Regions from separate parts of the Homo sapiens genome. Here region 2 is linked to region 1. The links come from fine-mapping of genetic effects on gene expression. Tissue or cell type: sun-exposed skin. Region 1 holds a variant in brackets; the other region holds the start of a gene. All regions are shown on one strand. Distances are from middle to middle. Region 1 overlaps LOC440982 (a long non-coding RNA gene). Region 2 holds the start of ZIC1 (Zic family zinc finger 1).

The links. PIP is the estimated chance that this variant, and not a neighbour inherited with it, causes the effect.
Region 2: it holds the start of ZIC1, and the variant in region 1 is fine-mapped to the expression of ZIC1 in sun-exposed skin (GTEx, PIP above 0.99).

Annotation. Positions count from the first base shown.
Region 1 is chr3:147,504,358-147,512,691 of GRCh38, reverse strand. LOC440982 (a long non-coding RNA gene) reads right to left here. Exons shown (of 3, transcript NR_121655.1): 2 at 4,640-4,751; 3 at 2,782-3,097. Among named protein-coding and RNA genes, the nearest start is that of ZIC1, 99 kb to the right of the region's middle. The variant G/T (reference allele first, on the strand shown) is at 4,926.
Region 2 is chr3:147,405,308-147,413,641 of GRCh38, reverse strand. ZIC1 (Zic family zinc finger 1) reads right to left here and starts at 4,277. Exons shown (of 3, transcript NM_003412.4): 1 at 2,548-4,277; 2 at 961-1,124; 3 at 1-288. The coding sequence starts at 3,529. The coding sequence ends at 91. It overlaps ZIC4 (Zic family zinc finger 4), which reads left to right and starts at 7,099. Exons shown (of 5, transcript NM_032153.6): 1 at 7,099-7,279. RefSeq lists enhancers at 1-624, 625-1,464, 4,090-4,670, 5,093-6,283.

The sequences.
Region 1 (8,334 bases):
TGTAATTCACATTTTTACTCTTGATTGCACCAGTAAACAAGCAGCTTATTTTCAGACAATGTTTTCTAACCTATCAGAAACTGCCTCATTCCTAGTTTTGTAACAGTCTCAAATATTTTTTAAATAAAAAGAAACTATTGAGAGAGAGAGAGAGAAAGAGACAGAGAGAGAGAGATAAGTGTAAAATGTATAGCCCAACAGAATGTCAAAATATAAATAGATGGGGGATTGTATGCCATCCCCTTCAATTTAGCTTATAGTTTTAAACAACGTATTTGGCAACTACTTGTTTTATTTAAAAAAATAGTGTTTGTTGATACCTGAAAGATTATACCAACCAGGAGAAATTCTAAATCACGGTTTTAATAATTTTCTTCTTAAACATTTTAAGGCAAAAGTGAAAGTTTTGCTAATATCCTTTTAAATAGAAATGACAATCAGTCAGGGCACAAGGATAAAAAAGTAAGTCAGCTAGGTCAGCTAATAGGAGATTAGAAAGTGATCCCATACTTCTAGACTGAGACTCAGAAAAATGATTTTAAAAACCCACTACACAATTGTTATTCTTCCTGAAATTATTTGTAGTTTTATTGTATAATCACATGAACATACATAATACAATGCCCTTGAATTTTCTATACTCATCTTTGAGTGCCAAAGGGAGAAAATATTATAGGAAAGGATTAGATCAATAATTCTCAATGCAGGGTGGTTTTGCCCCCATACTGGTGAGGGTACAGGCTAGGGATGTGGCTAAACACTACAGTGCACAGGACAGTCCTTCACAACAAAGAATTATCTGGTCCAAAATGACAGTAGCATCAATGTTGAAAAACAAAAACAACAAAGAACAAAAACATAATTCTCAACTGAGATTTTCTTTTTCTATTGTTTCCCTACTTCCTGGGACACGATGAATAGAACACATGATAATAATTATCACTTACTACAGACTCAATTTTATTGATGTCTCTAAAATTCTGTCTCTAAAATTGTATTTCAAAGTTCCAAGATAGTTCTTGTGGAAATTGACTCATTTAGAGTGTCTTCTCTTTGTCTTCATGCTTTAAATCTCAGATGCCCATAAAAAAAGATGATTTTATGTCCTTTGCAGGGACATGGGTAAAGTTGGAAACCATCATTCTCGGCAAACTAACACAAGAACAGAAAACCAAACACTGCATGTTCTCACTCATAAGTGGAAGTTGAACAATGAGAACACATGGACACAGGGAGGGGAACATCACACACCAGGGCCTGTCCAGGGGTGGGAGACAGGGGGAGGGATAGCATTAGGAGAAATACCTAATATAGATGACAGGTTAATGAGTGCAGCAAATCACCATGGCACGTGTATACCTATGTAACAAACCTGCATGTTCTGCACATGTACCCCAGAGCTTAAAGTATAATAAAGTTTTTTTAAAAATCCCAGATGCCACTTTGGTCTAGTTCTCCATTATCAAGATCAGATATTCTCAGAGGAAAACACAACATTTTTCTGGACCTAACATATGGGATAACCACACTTTTAAAATGCTAGAAGGAAGAAAGAGAAAAGCCAGGAGCCACAATCTCTTATCATTAGAAATTGCATTGTAAGGTAGCTATACAAGAATGCCCCCAATAGAATTGATCAAACAAGGTGAATATGTGGTGGAAAATTCTAAACTCATATGCCATCTTAGAATTTGTATGAATTTTGTTTTCCCTAATTTAAAAAATGAAGACAAGAAAACATAGTGATCTTCCAACCCAGTACTTTCCAAAATATATTCCTAACAATAACGTCTTAAGAAAATGATTTGATGATCAAATATTAGAAAACACAGCGAACATATTGCCAACATCCTTAAAGATTCTCAATACACCTTGGTATAGTAAAGATTCTGAGAAATGCTGCAATGAAAGCATCATTTTAGAGTTTTGATTAATCTTGTGTTTCTCCAACTTGACCCAAGAAATACTTTATTGTGCTTGATTTTGTTATCTTCATTGCAGCTGCTAACATCTGGGAAGTACTATATCAGAAAACCCAGTTATTCTAATGTACAATAGAACTATTCTTTTTCATCCCATCTTAAAGAGTATATGAGCTTGCATATTTTACATATATCATCAAACACAATTTTTTTACTTAAGATAATAAAGAATGTCCCTGAATTCTCAGATTCCAACTAGCTAGTGCTACATGCACAAGTTATTGAAGATCTTAGGGAAATTAACTCCATCAGCTAATGCAAAATACTCTCCAATTAAAAACATTTCCAGTCAAAGTCAAATTCTCTAAAGCCATCACGTTTTGTTTTCATTTAAGACTGTCCAAGGAACACATAAATCTAAATGATCAGAATTACTTCACTCAGTTAATACTCCTGTAATTTAAATGATTTTATTATGCATACATGCAGAACTTATAAATTATACATTCAGAACTTATAAATCATACATTTATAAACAATTATTCTCCTTTTCATTTTATTTTTAAAATTAATCTCATTTATCATTTTTCAGTCTATAATAAATATGTCCATTTTATCTGCTTCTGAGTGAAAACAAGAGTTGGTGGATTAGTAGTAACAAAAAACACGAAAATGTATCAAGAATTGCCCCACCTGTTCTATCTAGTAGCTCCCACCCCACCACCCTGAACCAGTGGAAATAACTGTGTCACCCTGAATGGCAGACACAATTACTATTTCCGTTCTTGAGTCAGGATTCAAGCCAATAACATGTTTTAACTGACATGAAAACTTTAAAGGAATAAGCATTTTACACATAGCAAATATTTAACAATTTTATTTTTTATTTTTTATTTTTATTTTTTTTGCTTCTCACAGAAAAGTTTGTAAGGTAGGTACTACTCCTCTCATTATATATGTGAATAAATGGAGGAAGATAAGTAACTTGCCCAAAATCACAAAGCCAGAAGATGAATCCCAAAAGAACATTAATCCAGGGCTGTTTCTTTCTGCTAAATGATGCTATTGCGTCCTTTCAGGGCTTCTGGGAAACTCTTCAGACTTGCTGACAGCACTTTTCTAGGACAGCTGAGACGCATTCGCTAATCTCTGAGCTGCTTGTCCTTTGTGGTTTACTTTGGCCAAGACATAGAAAAGACAGTTGAGAATAACAGTTATTTGCATGCCTGGAAATACTTAGCAAGTAAAAATGATTTCTACAAATAATGTATTTACTATGTAGAAAAGGATCTTTCTGCTTTTCTAGCTCATTTTCCTGCATAAATTAATTTTGTCTTACCTTTGTTCAGTGTTCACTGCCATTTAGCAATGTGTCATTTCTATGAATTACAGCGATAATACCATAATAATAATAAAGAAAAAGAGGAAGATGAGGAAATAGATATAAAAATGATAAATATTTTTCATTGAAAAGTTATCTCAGATTTTATATTAAAACAGTATAGCAATAATTGCCTCTTTATTTGCTGGAAGTTGTATTTTTAATAATTTGCTTCCTACATCTGGCATAGAATTTACCAGAGAAAGTATGTGCAATAAAAAGAGATAAGTAAAATTTTTGTTTGTTTTTAACCTTTTGTGTAAGCAGGGTTACAAAATGCCAAGTGAAATCTGAAATTTTATTTTTCTCATCTAATCTAATTTCCTACAGAAAATTATCCTAGGAAAATATAATATATATTGGCTTACTTCTTAAGCCGCCTCCTCCTTTAAGTAATATTTTTGTGCCCTTGAATATTTTATCTAATTATAAAACCAAGAAAATGAGATGTTTTTGCACAAAACTTAATAAAAATTGACTCAAGACACAACATTTTCCTGTCTCCATACAAACTGGTGATGAATATTTTAAATTCTAGCAACCACATGTATTTTAAAATAATTTTCTTAACTTCTTACTCTGTTTTTTTTTAGAGACAGGATCTCGCTCTGTCTTCTGGACTGGAGTGCAGTGGCATAATCATGGCTCACTGTAGCTGCAAACTCCTGGGCTAAAGTGATCCTCTCTGGTAGCAAGGACTGCAGGTGTGTGCCACAATACCCAGCTAATTTTTAAATTTTTTGTAGAGACAAAGTCTCTCTGTGTTGCCCTGGCTGGTCTTGAAATCCTGGCCTCAAGCAATCCTCCTCCTTCAGCCGCCCAAAGTACCAGGATTACAGGCTTGAGCCACTATGCCCAGCCTCCTTAGGTATATATTTATCACAACTGTTCCATAAATTATTTGTATAATTGATAATACAAGAAAATCCCTAGTAGTTACTCAGTTGTGGCCAAATTATCTGCTGAGGCTTAGAATAACAGTATAATAGCAATAACAACAATACTAACAGATAACATTTAGTTAATGTTTATTTTGTGCTAGGCTGTGTTAATTTAATTTAATCTTCATGGTAATTCCATTGAATGTAAGTATTATTATTATTTTCATCATTATATTCTTATTACCGTAAATGAGAAAATTGATGCCCTGATTGTGCAGCCAGCAGTGGTGGAATGAGGAATTGTACCCAAACAATCTCAACCTCAGAACTACAGCTTTTAACCAGTATGTTATACTACACCCAGGAAGGCCTTAACTTTGATATTTCCCTTATTTTTATTTCTCTGTTTGTGCTGTCAGAGTAGATGGGTTTGCCAGGAAAGTTTCAGAACTCACCAGACCTGCTGGAAGAACTTCAGACTTAGCGATGCCTTGAGATTGTGCCATATCAAACCTAGCTCCTGAGAGTCTTTCCAGCTTAAAGTCACATCCTAGAGCTTCCCAGGAGCTGTCATACAGAGGGAGGAAACCATCAGTCAGTCACCTGAACATCTGTAACACCAAACAGCCATTTCAAGAGGTAGAGCTTTGCCCAGTGCATTTTAGGCCCTCTCTTGGGAACATAAGGTCACCCCGCTGGTTCAGAAAGTTGAAAACAAGCTCTTATTAAGTGATGGATGTG[G/T]CATCATTGCACAAGATGTTCCCTGAGTAATGTTTTCCTGTTCCTGGAACTGAAAAGGAAATTAACTAAGAGAAAAGAAGTAAATTCTGGGACTAAGGCTAGCCAGTGGTCTGTATATTTACTATATTCATGCAGAATAGCAAAAATTTCAGGTGAATTGAAGATATCCTAGAGCCATAAACTGAAAACCTCTTACAGTGACTGTAATAAGTGAGCGTAAGAAAAAACGGAAGGGTAAAGAAGAGTGAGAATTGGGGGGAGGGAGGGAAGAAGGGAGGGAAGGAAAGAAGGGAGGGAGGGAAGGAAGGAAGGAAGGAAGGAAGGAGGGAAGGAAGGAAGAAAGGAAGGGAGGGAGGGAGGGAGGGAGGGAGGGAAGGAAATAGCCAACTGAACATTTTTGAAAATTAAAATTCCATAACACCATTATGGGCTCAATTTGTATTTTGCTAATTCTCACATGAGTTGAAAATTTTGTCCAGTTCTGAAATACTCCTGGGAGGCATAGTATGTAAAGGTGACCAATGTGATGTGGTACACTATCAGATAATATATATGATCAGTTTTTTTGAGATATTTTAATGATTGATATGAATCTATTTTAATGCATTTATAGAAGCTTTGTAAATCTAATTTAGACATATGTTAACTAAATTTTTACTTTTATATGTTCCCACTTTTAGAAAACTGTATTTTTCTTAGAATTGAATAAATTTTTTGTGGGTGTGTGTGTTTTCTATATTCAGTCTCTCTCCCATTATAAATTGTACTTGCTATATATTTGTGCATTGACTCACATTCAATACACAAGAAGTTGTATTGCATATTTCTGAAATATATGTACAATCACGTGTCACTTAACTACAGATATATATTCTAAAAAATGTGTCATTAGGCAATTTCCTCCTGGTACAAACATAGTATAGCATATACTCATATAAATGTAGCTGGTGTAGCTTACACACCTAGGCTATTTAGTATAGCCTATTGCTCCTAGGCAACAAACCTGTACAGCATGTTACTGTACTGGATACCACAGGTAATTGCAACCCAAAGGTAAGTATCTGTGTATCTAAACATAGAAAAGATACAGTAAAAATACAGCACTAAAATCTTATGGGACCACTGTCATACATGCAGTCCATAGTTGGCCAAAACATATCTTGAAGCACATGACTGTGATGGCTTATATGTTAAATTATATTTGTAAATAAAATAGAAGAGCGTATTACTTAATAAAATTCAATCCTTGTATATTTATAAAGTGAAAATGCCCCCTTTATGTGTCCTGTTACATAATAGATATAAAAAATCATTTGTGTAATTAATTAATATAGTATAAGTTCATCCTATATTATGTTCAACTGACAGAAAATAACTAGCTGTTGTCTAAGTTGAACAACCCCTCTGATATTTAAAATTACTGAATCTTCTCTTCGCTTTCCATGAACAAAAAATCAAGATGCCTATTATGACAGATATAGACAGTTTGTAGATAAGAATTTTAATTTTTAAGAGAAAATATAGGTATCATTTCAAGGAATTATTGATATATAATTTCACATTTTAAATCCTCAACAAATATTAAATGTTACTTTTGAATGCTAATTATTGTTTCGAAAGTTAAATATCAAACATCTAAGAAAACTTACTAAATGATCTAGAACAATGAGAGGTAGTGGGAGAAAACAGGTGAAGGGCAGGCAGACGCAAGTTCACAAGGGGCCTCCTAGACCACAGTTAGGGCTATGGAGCTTCAGTCTAAGTACAGGAAGGCCATTGAATGCTTTTTGATGCTTAAGTCACATTTATTGGGGTATAATGTACCTCATGTACATAATTTGGGGCAGAAGCTCCTCACAGCCTACAATACATGTGCAAAATTCTTGGAGTTAAAGGGAGGCACTTTATGAAAATGTGTTTACTTTCCTATTTTTATTTCTAGGGGGATACAACGCATTCTATAGGATTGGAACTCTCTTTATACATATATGTGTGTTTGTGTTTGTGTGTGTGTGAGAGAGAGAGAGTGTGTGTGTGTATATGTGTGTGACAGAGACAGATACATACAAATATGTCACATCATATATGAATGTATTAAAATTCACTCTTTGCATGTAAAACTGATGATTATAGATAAATGTATAAAGATGTGCAACTGTCACAATCAAGAAATAGATCATTTACCTCACACCAAAAAGTTCTCTTGCATCCACCACCCCCTAGCAACTACTGGTCTGATTTTGTCCCTATAGTTTTTCCAAAATGTCATGTAAATGGAATAAATGGAATCTTGTAGGTTTTGTGTCTTGCTTCTCTTAATTAGCATAATGCCTTTCAGACTCACCGATGTTCTGGTATGTAACAGCTCATGATTGCTGAAAGAATTCTATTGTACGAATTATTATAATTTGTTTATTCATTCACTAGTTGATGAACATTTGTATTATTTTCAGTTTGGGCAATTATAAATAAAGCCTTGAAAGCCTTTTAAAGAAGGAGAGACATAATTTGGCTTACACTATAAAAAAATACTGGCTCCTGTACGGAGAATGAATGTCAGGGCATTTAAAGTGGGAGGCTAGAGGCAGGGAAGTCAGCATGCAGTCCAAGTGACAGAAGATGGTAGCTGGTACAAGCAGAGATGTAGAGAAATCAATAGAATTAAAACGGTTATTTTAAAAGCAAAATGTAGAGCACCTGAAATAATATAGAAGTAGGAAAAATCACAGATGCCTGGAGCAACTAGATTATTGTTCACCTCTTCACTGCCGGTTATCTCTCCCCATATCAATTCAGTATGAACACTCCATGGGTATCAGTTAGTGAAATTAAATTTGGGACATCAAAAATTTGAAAACATAGAGTTTTCTATGAAATCTACAATATATCATTCAGTCCCATAAAAACAAATCTTTCATGACAGACAGGTAACTTCTAGAGCCTTATAGTAAGTCTCTACAATACTATCTTTCAACAAAATACGATTTAATTTCCCTTCAGATTTACACTTGGAACACTAAGATTAGATCAGATAATTTGGGGAATTTAAAATAATGTCACATTCACATTTTGGTCTATATATGAATTTATCAAAAATATTAGAACTGTGAGAGACCTCTTTCACTGGGATACCTGAAGCAGCACATAATTCTGAGAGAGATTACTTCAGGGGTGGCCTTAATTCCATAGAATGAACTAAGCGTTCTCCCAGAAAAAATAAGAGAAACAGAATAAGCACATGTTCATAAAGCTCCTCTCTTTAACTCTGAGAATTTTAGACTTGTACCATACAATATATAAGGAGCTTCTACTAAAAATCATCTTCTACTCTTAATTAATAGAAATTGTGGACTAAATACTTTTTTACTCTGTACTCAGTAAATTGCTGTGTAACTACTGAAGTTGAACC
Region 2 (8,334 bases), 99 kb after region 1:
TTTGATTCGCAGGGTTCTTTCAGTAATGTTGTGTATACGTGTGTGATCAGTCTCTTAAATAGGGTTTTGTTCGATGTTTTGTTTCTGATTTTAAACGTACCATTCGTTAAAATTGGAAGAGAGCGCACTGTGGCCGGCTGTGTGGTGGACTGCGGAGGAGGAGGGCGATAAGGAGCTTGTGGTCGGGTTGTCTGTGGAGGGAGACACGATGGTGGGAGGCGTGGAGGATTCGTAGCCAGAGCTGGCGGCCGGCGAAGGCTGCGAGCCCTGCGAGGAGGATTCGTGGACCTGCAGGAATAAAGTCGCGTTTTTACGGACATAAAGAGCCAGTGCGGCGGCCGACTAGAGAGGCGAAGGCCGCGAGTGCCCTTCCTCCTGGACCCCTTGGAGCCCCCTGAACACAGGTGAGGCCCGATCAGCGGGACTTTGGGCTTGGTTTCTCTGCACAGGCCTGCAGAAACCGTGCTCCTGGGAAAGTCAGGGTCCCCAAGACTCACAAAAGAAAAATAGGTCTGGGAAGAGGGAGACTGGATATGAGGCCAGAGACTGCACTTTCTTTCCCTGAACTTTGCTTGTCCATGTTTAGGTGAGCCAGAGCTCAGGCCTGGGCGCAGGAGTCCAATTCTTGCGTCTCACTGGCAGCTGCAAGGGCAGCAGTTTCCGCAGCGTCAACCCCCTGCAAAAGCCCTAGCTCTGGGCCAAATTCAGTGGCGGCCTTTGCTCATACTCGCCTCTTTTAACTTTTATTATTAAACCAAAAATTTAAAACGGCCTTGGACACTCCCATCCCCTTTTCCAGGTCCCGCCCTACCTTCTCTGCCCAGTTCCACTGAGTGGAACCTTTGCCTTCCCGCTTCCTCTGGCTCCCGCCACCGCCTGTCTGCCACTCGCCGCCCGACCCCAAGCCGAGAGCCAAGAGAGCTCCTGCCTCAAAGGGGGCGACGAGAGTGCGGCGATTACCTTCATGTGTTTGCGCAGCGAACTGGGATGCGTGTAGGACTTGTCGCACATCTTGCAAAGATAGGGCTTGTCGCTCGTGTGCACGTGCATGTGCTTCTTGCGGTCGCTGCTGTTAGCGAAGCGCCGGTCACAGCCCTCAAACTCGCACTTGAAGGGCTTCTCCCCTGGTGCCAAAGTAGAATGAGAGGGGTCTAATTAGAAAAAAATACCGCGGCCGTTTTTCAAAAACTAAACAAATAGAAAAAAAATAAAACAAAAAGCCAGCAGCCCAGGATTAGCACTTTGCAAGCTTAAAAACCCGGAACGTCAATAAATTCTTACATCTGCAGTGGAATTATAAATATCTTAACTCTATTGTAATCCCTAATACAATTGGATCTACATTTTATTTTTATGTTTAAAAAAATTAATAGTAGGAGGAGTCGGTTTTTAGCATCAGATCTGGAAACTCGTATTACCCAGAGCTACACACGATTTCGGATTGCTTCCACCTGGCTCCTGGTTTCTAGTTTTCACGTTTGCGGCTTATTCTCCTGCCCTATTGCTTTTCTCTCCTCCCCCTGCCCCCTCCCCGACGCTCCGCATCCCCTGGTCGCCTCCTCCAACCCACCCCACTCCCTACATACACTCACATTTTATAGCGTAATCTGGGCCGGAGAGAACTCAACGCCGCAAATTCTTCCCTGACTCGGGCGTTAAACCCGAAGTCTCAAGCATGGTTCTCAGATCTCACCCGGGAAAATCAGAATAGGAAAGGAGACCCAGTTCCCGGCCTCTTGGGGGCAGGGGGCCCAGAATGTTTTGTCTGATGCCAGGCTACAACCCTGAGCTCGTGGGAACTTTTTTTTTTTTTAACTGTTCCGGACCTGTGTCTTGATTATTTTTAAAGGCCAAAGAGGGGAATCTGGTGTTTTGAAAACACCCTCATGGAGTCTAATAGACAACAAGTTCTTCCTTGCCTTCCTCGGACTTTCTCCACCCCTCAAACCCACTCTTAAAACCAGTCACTACTAAAACTGAACTCTTCAAATATGCATAAAGCTCCAAAAGCCTCCTCAATCCCAAATTATTTCCTTTCCCCACTCTGTCTCAATTCTTTCTGTCTCTGTTTTGTTTCTTTCTACGCCCTTAACCCGGCCTCCTCAATTTCCTCAGCTCTTTCCTTTGGCAAAGTCCTCAGTGAAGTGCACGGAGAGAGATGTTGGCAGCAAGCAAGGGTTTAGATTTGTCTGCAGCCTGAGCAGCTGGCGCCTCCGCGGCTGCCGGGAGCCAGCCACTTTCTCCGGCTTCGAAAGCACCAAGGTCTCCGCCAAACCAGGTTTGGCTTCCTGTTCTCCGACCTTTTTTGTTTCTCATTTAAAAAATCTATATACCCAGCTCCTCCTCGTCCGCCCTGTGTGTGTGTGTGTGTTTTCCATAATTTCAAGCCAGAAACTAAAAATCAGCGCACACTTTCCCTGCCTGCCTGCCGGAACCTGACGCCCGGGATCCCACCGAGGCTGCGTTTGTGCGACCTGGCCGCTGACTTTCGGTTTGGGTCCCAGGCCCAAGTGGGAATGGGTAGGGGTCCTACAGCTGTTTCCGTACCTGTGTGCGTCCTTTTGTGGATCTTTAAATTCTCGGAGCGCGCGAAGACCTTGCCACAGCCAGGGAAGGGGCAGGGAAAGGGCTTCTCGCCCGTGTGCACGCGGATGTGGTTAACCAGTTTGTATTTGGCTTTGAAGGGCTTGCCCTCGCGCGGACACTCCTCCCAGAAGCAGATGTGATTACTCTGCTCCGGGCCACCTACGTGCTCCACGGTGACGTGCGTAACTAGCTCGTGCATGGTGCTGAAAGTTTTGTTGCACGACTTTTTGGGGTTGGCCAGCTGCTCGGGCTCGATCCACTTGCAGATGAGCTCTTGCTTGATGGGTTGGCGCATGTAGCGGAAGAAGGCGCCGGCGCCGTGATGCGCGGCCATGTTCACGTTCATGGGCCCGTAGCCGTGCAGCTGCGGCGCAGCATAGTGCTCCGAACGCGGGCTGGTCACCTGGCCGTACTGCTCCGGTCGCGGGTACATGTCCCCCGAGAAGCCGAGCCTCATCTGCCCGTTGACCACGTTAGGCGACGCGTGGCCGGCAGCCTGCTCGTGAAGCCCGGGGAAGAGGAGGTGGCCCGCGGCGTCCGTGTGGCCGTGTGGGCCCCCGAAGCCCCCGGCCGATGCAGCAAAGAGGCTGTGCTGTGCGCTGGCTGCCGCCGCCGCGTCGCCAAAACCCCGGTTGCGGAACAGAAAGTCCCGCGTGGAGTTGAAGGCTGCGCTGGAATAGGAGCCGACGTGGCCCGGGTGATGGTGATGGCCCAGGGCCGCAGCAGCCGCGTAGCCTGGCGCCTGCGACGTGAAGGCCGTCTGGCCGGCCGAAGCCAGCTCGTGCGAACTGGGGTTGAGCTTGAAGGCGCCCATGCCGTCGGCGAACGGGTTGATGCCCAGGCCCACGTCTCGTTCGGCCACGTCGCCCGCGGAGTGGTGGCGGGACGCGCCAAAGGTGGTCACGCCGATCGCTGGGTACTGGGGGCCGGCGTCCAGGAGCATCGTGGCTGCTCGGGGCGAGCCCCGGCCTCCCCCGCCCCCCCCACCCTCGCCAGCCGAGGAGGGAAAATCGGGAGGAGGAGGAGGAACAAGAGGAGGAGGAAGAGGAGGAAGAAGAGGAGGAGGGAGGGGGAGTCGACCCACCTCGCGAAGTCCTAGCCTGCAGGCAATGGCGCGGCGCGCCCGGGCGCTGGCCGGGCCAAACGCAAAGTAGCCGGACGGCTGCGGGCCGCGAGTAACGCAGGCTCCAGCGCCCGCCAGGCAGATTCTGCCGGCCCGGCTCGCACTTTCTCGCCGCTCAGTCTCTGCCGAGAGGGCCGCGCGTCAAGGCTGCCCGGGGAAAGGCATGGAGCATCTCAGCCCCCTAAAAAAAAACTTCCTCCTGGATTTGTAGCATAGAGGAATGTGAGCGCCAGTGCCGCGACTGCTTCGCCCTCTCTCCGCCTCGCGCAGCGCGCCCCTCCTTACTTCTCCACTAGCCCCTCGCCCTTTCTTTTCTCTCTCTCTCCTTTCTCTCACGCTCGCCTCCTCGCTCCTTCACTCTCCGTTTTTCCCTCTCTGCTTTTTGAAAAAAAAAAAAAAAAAAGTGGGTGGGGGGGTGAAGAAAGAAAGAAAAAGCCAAAGAAAAGGCGCAAATCATGCACAATATTGTCTTTTGCGGTTTATCTTCCTGGGGAGAAACTTTCACCTCCTCAGCCGGGCGGTGAGCGCGAGACTGATAGCAGCAATCATTCCTGCAGATAAATGAATTGAAAGGACGACACCGTCCCCCCCTTGATGAATGGGAGCAGGGGGGAGGTGTCACGTGCTGCCGACGCTGGCGCCCATTGGTGCGCCCGCATTCCCCCCGCCCTCAGCCGCCGCGCCAACGGAGGGCGCGCCGAGGCGCCGCGCGCAGCTCATTGGCCCGCCCGCCTCATCAATCCCAGGTATTGTAAAGCGCTTGACATCCCCTTTTGACAAACCAGGGCTGCCAGGAGTAGCAACTTTTTTTTTAGCCAAATTTTTTCCCTCTTCTCACGGAAATTTTTTTTCTTTTTTCTTTTCTTTCTTTCTTTTTTTTTTTTTTTTTTTTTTTTTGCCACGATTACTTTTCCTTCTCACAGTCATATGCATTCCTCTTCCTCCTTTGCCCTCCCGCACCCCGGCGCTGCCCTTCCCGAAACCAACTTTTCGCTGAGCGATTAGAGACTTCAGACGTCTCCGGGTGCAGCAGGCGGGGATGGGGCTAGTAAACACAGCAAAGGCACTTCCAGAATGTCCCGATTCAGCAACTTTCTTTTCTTTCTTCCCCCTTCCCCCCTCCCTTCAAGAGCAGCAAAAGAGGCTTTTGTTATTTGCTCCTTTTGAAGTTTGTTTCCCTCTTGCTTTGTCCCCCTCCTGTTTATAATTTAAGATCTTGGGAGCACACGGGCACTATGCTCTCTTTACAAAAAAATGTAATTTCTCAGTGTAACCGGCAGCCTCTGTATTTCTCGCTTTTATCTAATCAGACTTCCGGCACCACCGCACCCCCCTCCCCGAAAACACACACACACACACACTCACACACACAGGTGGATGAAAGCGCTTAAGTTCCCAGGTTATTGAGGTTTGAATTTTTTAATGGCAAATTTGAAACGTTGTTGCCAGTTTCCTTTACTTTTTCTCTCTCTTGCGTTATTTTTCTGTTTTCTGCCTTTCCGTTGTCTCCTTCGACTGCCCCCGCTAACCCTGTCTCTCCTCACTCCTGTTCCCTACTTGGGCCCCTTTCATTCAGGTAAAACTGTAAATTTCCCAACGCGCTATTGTTCCCTTGGGCTGCCCAAAGCTCCCTAGAGATCCCCGAATACTTTTTCGGTATTTAAATCCCCAATAGATAGGACCAATGTAAATTTTGTGACATTCAAACCTTTTCTAGTTCACAAATCAGTCACCCTTGTCACAGTTATTGAAATTCCGCAACTCGCCACACCAGGACGGTGGAAAAAGCGGGCGCGGTCTTTGTTGCCGACCAGGCTTTTGATCGCCAGAGAAAATTTACTTACCTTCAGATGAGTGAGCAGAAAAAGAAATAACACTCCCTTTGATTTAGTTAGGAAAATGCAGACATTTGGATTCAGTGCAAACATACAACACTCGCTTGTTTTCGCGATGCGGCCCTCGATTAACCTGTCTTTGCCTAGCGCAAAGTCTATTCAACAACTGCGCGTAGTTTCTTTTTGTCCCTTCCACAAAGAGCCATTGACTATATATTAAAATGATTGTTGAAAGGTAGGGGAGTATGGTACTTAAAAGCAGGAAAAAAAAATCCCTGTGACTCAATCAATTAAGCCGAGCAACATTTATGCATTTCAAAAAATGCACGCGGATGCGGGGGGTTGTGGGGACGAAGGTTGCATTTCTCCGCAGCTCTGTTTAAAACCCAGCAGTCCTGGCCGAGGCTTTAGCTGAAGCGTCTGCATATTCATTAGGTCTAATTATTTTCTAGTAAGGAAAACACAAAAAGCCAAGAGTCGGAATCCTTCAATTTACCCTTTGTTTCTAACTTCATTTGGCTTCTTTGCAGCTGAATCAAAGCCCTAAACTCTTTTTCCAAACAAAGAAACCTCAACTCATCCTTTCATAGGCGGCCCGGTTAGGAAACTCACCGTGCCCCAGCGAGAGGAAAATGAAAATGAATATATTTTTTGCCCTGACGCCAGCGCTGACTGCACGGGCTGGAGGAAGGCAGGGTCAGCGTCCGCCGCTCCTCGCCTTTCTGGTTTTCTGGTCTTCTCACCAACTAGATTCTCGCTTGGGGCTGGCCGGCGGGACTGCCCTTTCCATGGGCTGTGCTTGCTCAAAAGTCGGCTTGGGTATCCGGGATGATTTCCCGGTGCCTGAAGGGACCTGGCTGAGCATTTGTGCTTGTGCCGGGAAATATAAATTCGGAAAAAAAATTAATTGTTCTGTTCCCATCAACAAGTCTGAGTCTAGCAGCCCAGCATTTCCCACCAACTTTGAGTGGAATGGAATGAGGAGTGGAGGTAAAGAAAGGGCCGAGGTATCTTTAAAAATTATTGTACACTTGGTTGGAAAAAAAAAAGATATATCGGAGGCACTAAGTCTTTTTACCTACAAGGGGAAGTTGGATCCTGCTTCCCCTGGAGTTTAGAAAACCTCATCTGTATGGAGAAGTTTTCTCTAGAGGCTGTATTCCTCTCACTAGGGAGAACAGATATTGAACCCACCTCGCCCGCCTTTCAGGAAACACACGCGGGCGCACACACACACACACAACAAGGGAGGGGACCTAAGGGGGGAAGGGTAGCTGTTGGGAGGGGGAGAGGGAAAATAATTCTTCAAAAAAGAAAAGTCAGTCTTCTCCTCTCCAGTCCGTGGAAAATCCAACGGGGACGTTGACAAGAGGGTATTTTTAGGAAACACATCCAAATATACAGGGTAAGAGTGAATGTGAGAAAAAAAAAAGTTGTGGGTTGTAGAAGTTATCAAGTGGGATTTGCGGCGCTCTCTGCAGGAAACGCGAACGGCTCCAGTTCAAAGCCACATGCACCAACGTGACATATAAGCCATTAAAATATCATCCTGACGGCTCATTTCTGCTTCATCATACATTCCCTAACTGCTTCCTGAAAGCTGGAAAAGGAGAAGTGAAGGATGACCGCCTCGCTGGAACCACAAAAGAGAGGCTTGGAGGGGTTTGTGGTCCCCTCTCAGCCACCCCGAAATGATGTGCAGAAATGAGGCGATCCTGGCAACAGGTGGAGTGGGGTAAGTGCGTGAGTCCAGGGGGCAGACAGATGAGAACTGTACCTCCAGCGACCGGGTAGCAAGTACCCTCAAGGGGACCACTGGCACCCAAACCCCAGTGGGGGAAGAGGCCCAGCCAGTCTTTCTGCCCCATCTCCTCCTTCATCCTACCCCCCTCCCCCAACCGTGGATAAAGGCCCCACCCCACTGACACTAAGGGGAGGAGGGGGCCCTTCCGCAAAGGGGCAACGCAGAGGATGAGTCCATCCCTTCTTCCCAGGAGGAGGGAAAAGGGGTACAAATGGGGCTCCCACTGGCACAGGAACCAGGAGCAGTTTGTTGCCTGCCTGCCTTCCCTTCTCTCCTTGTGAATTGCCTGGGTGCCCCACCGTGGGCACAAGAATGGAAGTCGTGGCCCAGAGCTTCCCTCGCGAAAAATGAGCAAGGCGGGTGCCGGGAGGGGGCCTTTACAGGAGGTATCTCTGCTCTGCCCCCAAGGGGGTGGCTAGGAGAGTCTCTGCTTCCCCTCTCCAGGGTCAAAGCGCCAAGTTAGCCCAGATGGCAGCAAGACGATGGAACTTCTCCGCCCCAACCTGACGGCAGATGCCGCCTGAGTCCACCTCAGGGCGGCTCCTTGCCCTCCCTCACCCTGGTCCTGCCTCAGGAAGCTGACTGCTGGGATCTGCTCTCTGCGCGCGGCCAGCAGTGGGTTCGGGACTTGGCTTTCTTTATCTCCAATGCGAACAAGAGCAGCAACTAGCTCTCTGGGGAGCAGGCCGCAGCTCCTAGGATTCTGGCCCCTAGCCTAGACCCAGGGGCATTGGAAATTAGGGGCCAATGAGGAGGGAATAGAGCTGAGCTGTGAAAGAAAGCTAGGACTGGCTCAAAGGTTGGATCTGAAAGTTGGGGTTGATGAATGGCCCATGTCAAAGTCTTAGGAAAGCGGAGGGGCTTTTGGAGGGTTGCACTTCGGCCGTCACCGTCTTCAGGAAACTCCCTTTGGATTCCAAGGTCATGTTTTCCCCGCTTTCCGACAGTATTGTCCTCGCAGCGACCCACACCACTGCATGCTGCTC